2 separate regions of the Homo sapiens genome follow, and region 2 is linked to region 1. The links come from fine-mapping of genetic effects on gene expression. A gene starts in region 1. The other region holds a variant in brackets. All regions are shown on one strand. Distances are from middle to middle. Region 1 holds the start of NCALD (neurocalcin delta). Region 2 holds the start of MIR5680 (microRNA 5680).

Region 1 (2,909 bases):
ACATTTTGAGTAAAAGAAGTAAATGTCAAAGTGTACCTCATCAAAGATAGTGCTGTTAAATGACGGTGCTACTGGTCTTATCTGTGCTCAACTGAAATGTTACATATAAATTATCATTTTTCTAGGGGTGTTAAGAATATGGCCTCTGGGTTATTATAATTTTGAGATCAATTAAGTGATGAGATTATGTCTCAGTAGATGTGCCTGGAATGAAAGCACATTAGACTTTTGGAAAATCCTCCACGGAGACCCTGACCAAAAACAGACATGTCAAATGCCAGCAAGTTAAATGAATATTCACTCATTGAAAGCTACTGAGAAATTATTGATATACCCACAGTTATTCACTTATTACTGTAGCTAAATACTGTTCAAAATTTTTCACCTCCAAGAGTAAAATAAATGCTATTAGAATTCTGAAACTAATAAAGAACATAAAAATTAAAACAATATATTCTTGCACTAAATTACGATATAATTCACACACTGTGAATATATGGTATTCATATATACAGTTAAACCAGTTTCTTCTACTAATTAAAATACTAGCTGTATTACATGTAGTGCTCTAAAATTTGCCCCTTTTTCTGTTAAACTTGTAAGATTTAGACACCTGGTTATAAATCTAGACTTTGGCTAACTTCAGTACTACAGGTATTCTTTAAATTAGAAGCTCCAAAACAATTCAACCTGTATGTCATGAAAGAAAATCTGAAATTACTAAACTTGGGAAGGAAAGGAACTACAATACAAAGAAAACAATTTGTAGTAAATAGTATTATAGGAATAAAGAGATAAAAATTCTTATTAATCACAGTTATCAAATTATTCATTTAAGATCCAGAGCAAATTGTGAGTGACTACTTCTATCTGTGTTTGAGTTAAAGTAGAACTTGTGTCAATGATACTTTTCATTTTAGGGCTATTGTTTTTTTCTTTAGGTAATTATGACGATTTTTAAAAATAACAACAGCTTACATGACTCCTTAGTAAAGACCACCTCATGCCATTCTCTTCACAGCTGAATTTTCAGGGGAGGATACTGGAAATATGCACTTTGCTCTAACAACCAAAAAGCAATTGCATGCACACATGTAAAAGGTTCCACCCCAACTTCCTTGGCATATTCCCGATTATTTCTCTCTAAACAGGAAACTGTTGACAATTTTTCCTGGTACTTTCAGAATACCAAAGGTTTTACTTACAAGCAAAATCCCAACTTTTGTTTCAGTTATAATGTTATTTCCCGTGGTTCCTATTGTTGCTAAATATGAATGCTGCAAACAAGATAGAAACCAAATTCCAAACTATTTTAGGCTGATTCAGAATTGAGTAGCAATTGTAAAAAGAAAAGTTAGAAACACATTGCAAGGCTATGCTGGAGTTTTTAAACCCAAAACAATACTGAAGGGAGGATTCCTGGAATTCAAGAGAGAATATTTGGCTCAAGCTGCAAAATCCGTATGTCTAAATAATGTTATGTTAGCAAGTGTTGAGCAAGCAAGACGATTATATTTTAACCTACTTCACAAAACATTAATCCAAATTTAACCAAATTCCAGAGAACCTGCCTGAAATTCACAACTAGAAGCTGCTTCACATTTTCCCCTTGGTACAACAATAATTGCTCATGAATACAAACTTGTAGGAGGTAAGAGAGAGGGGAAAACCACAATGAGCTATAAAAACATCTAACTATTGTATATAAAGCAAACTAATTACCTCACTCAGAAGAAGTGCAAGATTTAACAGTCCATGCTCTGCAGCCCCTGGAAACAGCAGTAGCAGCAGCAGCAAGGTCCAGCATCCACCAGATTCTCACAAGCCTTTGACTGTGTGGACTCAGCCACAGACTCTGCCTCTAGCTGACGTCAAAGTCCCTGTCACATGGCCAGATGAAAGCCAAGAGATCATTGGTTGTCGTAGCAACCACAGACCGGCTCTGAAATTATTTCAATAGGTCATCTGTCACTGTGGTGTGTGTGTGTGAGAGAGAGAGTATGTGTGTACGCACACACCATAGAACCATCACGGACAGCTCCTTGACAACCTCAACCCCCGAAGTTGTGACTCCAGAATGCCTACAACTTTCCTCTTTAAGGCTTTGGTGTCTTTTCTCTACAGTTACTTGCAGGAAAATATATGCCACCCTGAAGTTCTCATTTGTTTCACTACCATCAGCATGAAGCATGTCTCTCTCTCTCTCTTTCTCTATAACAAAAGGAAAGAAACTGAAAAATTCTGGAGTAGTTTTCTTAGCCAATTAAACTTATTTGCAAGCAAATATATAAAAACAGAAGCTCAGGGGGAGGGGTTGGAAGAAAATGTATTTTAAAAACTATATCAGAGTCTACATGGATATACTGAGACCATGCTTGTGATGGAAAGAAAAATAAAAAACAGTGGCTTGGGTTCATGACAGTGGCTTATGACTCAGAGACAGGTAAGACAGTCTAATGATCCTGACACCAAGTAGGATGTAGACATCAGATAACATAAATTCAGGATTCCTGTACTGTAAAATGTCTAGGTAAAAATGAGGACCGAAGGAGTTTCAAAACAGTGTTACTTTAAAATAACCATGTGAGTAAGCTGAAAACTGTGCTTTGGGGCCATACGGGTGCCAAATGCTCCCCTCTTGAGTCCTCTCATCCACACCCCTTTGCTGAGACTCAACATTGAGTAAACAGGGCCAGTGTTCCACAAACACAAAGTGTAATGAAAGCCCAGAGCCATAGAATGAAAGGGTTATCTCACATGTTTTCTAACATCAGCTTTATTTCCTTTACGACGACCCTAGCTTACTTTTAACTCTGCACACGTGCCTATTTCCCAGTTAATTCTCTTTCTTAATTAATGGGAAGCCGATTAAACAAAATCAATGAAACTCACAAGAAGGTACTCTGAAA
Region 2 (2,909 bases), 330 kb after region 1:
TTTTATCTTCACAGTAACCCTGAGATAGCTTTGTTATCTATTATCAACCTCATGCCTCACATCAGAAAACACAGTAGAGGTTAAGTAAGGACCCCAAGATCCAGGAGCTATTGACGAATGAGCCACAGCTCAAACCCGGCTGTCTGGCTGCAGAGCCCACACTCCTAATGTCCATATTGGCAACTCTCCTAATACAGTTACAGACAGAGGGTCTACAGGACTGGACACTGAATGGTTGAGACAGGGGAGACTCCAGGACAATTTCCAGAGATCTGGCTTGGGTAGGTAAACATGTGAATTTCAGTTTCTTGAGCCTCCTCCCCAGATCTGTCCTTGCCCCGCTACCGCAAGTACCCACACTCCCACCATCACACCACACCCCCTCTCCTTTGTAGTCTGCATCAAGGCCTTTGGCCATAAAACACGGGGATCTCCCAATTGGAGTGAAAAACCTCACAAGCATTTCCACTTAGGTCTGAGAAACCCCTGACAGCAAACTCTGCTCTTGGTAATACAGTGGCTTAGGTCTGTTATTTTCAAATCAGCCAGAAGTAGGAAAACTTTGAGCGAGCTTGTGTGGTTTCCTTCTGAGAGAGTGAGACCTTGGCTGCCTACTTCTGTGTTTCACCGTAGCTGCCCTACGGAACAGAACATAGACCTTCTTGCGGGGCTAGCGTGTAAGCACAGCAGCACACCAGCCGCCTCGCCTGCGGCCTCCGACAGACCCGCAGGAAGAAACTGACCCTGGCAGGAGCTCTGCAGAGCCAAATGGCATTCTTTCTCCATGCACAAAAGTTAAAGCAAGCATCTGCAGCATTAGAAAAAAAAAAAAAAAACTTGTGTATTTCCTGCGGACAGGGAGACCTCCTGCCCCTCCCGGGCTGATACAACCCACTTTGCACATCCTGCTTCTCTGGGAGCTAAAAATAAATCGGTATGCACTGAAAAACACTCAAACACATCTCCCCAGCACACCCTTCCCAAGTCCTCGAGCGCAAGGGACACGAATCTTTCAGGTCCTGAGTCCAAAATGCAGACCACTTCCTCGTCCGTGTTCAACCAGCGCCTTTCGGCCTCTCCCTTGGCCCCCTCCCCAGACGCCCACGCCCCGCACTCGCCTCCTGTGGCCTTTCCGGGCAGACTCCGCAGGCCCGGGATCCAGCGGGTGCCCCGGCCCCCGGCCCCGGCCCCGGCCCCCGGGGCGGGATGCTCCAGAGGTCCCCGGGCCGCCAGGCTCACCAACGCCCCCTTCTGCCCAGCGCGCCCCATCCCGCCGGCCCCACGCGCCTCTGCGCGGCCCTCTGCAAAGTTGCTCTCTCCTTTTCTGCCGCCCACCCTCAAGGTCTGTAATTTTGTTTTGTTTTCCCTCAGAGGCACTGGGGGAATGACAGAGGAATTGACAGGGTGAACTGCACCCAGGAGGGAGCTGCTGGAACCAGGTTCCCAGAACCGCGCGCTCCTCGAACCCACCCCTGCGCCCGCGGCGCACCGAGCGCACGGGTCCCCCCCAGCAGCCGCCCCCGGCACACCCGCCCCGGCTGCAACTCCGACTCCGCTCTGGCTCCCGAGAAGCGGAGGGAAGGCGCTGCGACTCACCGCCTCGGCCGCTCCCAGCGTCTGTGTCGCTTCGGGCGAGGCGG[C/A]GGCAGCAGCGGCAGCGCCTTCCCTCCGCCCGCCTCCCCCTGGACAGCACCGTCGCCAGCCGCGCCCCCCTCCCCAGCCTGGCTCGCCGCCTCCCTCCTCGCGGCCGCAGACCCCCTCTCCACTGCAGCCCCGCAGGCAGCCTCTCCGGCGTGGGCTTCACCGCGGGGTTGCAGGGGGGCCAAGATGAGGCGCGGGATTTGCAGGTGCAGTGGACGCCCCCCCCCTCCCCCGCTTGCCCTGGTGCAGCCTCCGGGCGTGTCCCCACGGTGCCCCATAGTCCTAGCTCACCGCCCAGGCCTCTAGCCAGCCTGCACTGCTACTTTCCAAGGGGTGCCATCTGCTTGCCTCCTCGGGTCCTGGGAGGTCAGATTCAGCCTAGAGCACCTCCTTCCAAGCTTCGATTTGAGGGGGGGTCTGGGGTCCCTGCTCTACCGCAGTGAAGTTCAAGGGAGCCTTGGAAGGCAGTTGAAAAGCTTCTCAGGTGGTGTCCTCTGGACTCTTCATGCCCACAAGGTGGGAGGGGGGCTGCTTTTGTCTAACTAGTGCTTTCTCTACCCAAAGCCTTCTGTAAACTGTCTAGGAAAAGCTTAACAAAAAATCCGGAGGAAGACATCTAAGGGGCCCCTCTCCTGCCCCTCCTTCCTCCCCTCAAATTTTTCATCTCGTGTGGAGATAATGAGAAGCAAAATGTCTTGTCAATTCATTCACCCAATATTTATCGAGTACCTGCTGGCTGCCAGCACCTGTTTCCTGTCTTGCTGTGTCGTCCACTCATGGCCTCTCAAAAAGCCACTGTAACTAACTCCTTGTGCTTGTCAACCCTGGTGACATTTCCAGAACCCGCAGAAGGTCTCAAGAGCAACTCAAATTCATCAATTTAAAAAGTTGCTGCTTAAAAATAACAAGGCTGCAAAGGCACCGTGACCTGGCCTTCCTCGTTGTAATGTTTGCAAAATCTTTTAACATGACTGGTTATAGAAAGGACAGTTACATTGAGGTCCAGACAGCTGCCAACTCTGATTTAAACACCAAGTAAAAGTTTCATCTAATCAAAAGCACCCTTTCCTAGCTCTACCGGTTGCCTTCAATTGTAAAACAAAAATTATCTAGGAGGCTGTTAAACCATCATCAAATACTAAAACCTTTGCTTGCATTGGGTTAGCAGGTTAGCCCAGCATTTCCCTTCCTGGACACACAGGAGGAGAAATGCTGGACTAATCTGCTAATCCAATGCAAGCAAAAATTTGCATTGGAAAGTTGGATTTTTT

What was found.
Region 2: its variant is fine-mapped to the expression of NCALD in whole blood (TOPMed, PIP 0.97).

The regions. Positions count from the first base shown.
Region 1 is chr8:101,789,140-101,792,048 of GRCh38, forward strand. It overlaps NCALD (neurocalcin delta), which reads right to left and starts at 1,830. Exons shown (of 4, transcript NM_032041.3): 1 at 1,723-1,830.
Region 2 is chr8:102,122,641-102,125,549 of GRCh38, forward strand. It overlaps MIR5680 (microRNA 5680), which reads left to right and starts at 2,792; the gene lies at 2,792-2,875. It also overlaps a transcript of NCALD not described here. RefSeq lists silencers at 1,077-1,266, 1,637-1,696. The variant C/A (reference allele first, on the strand shown) is at 1,641.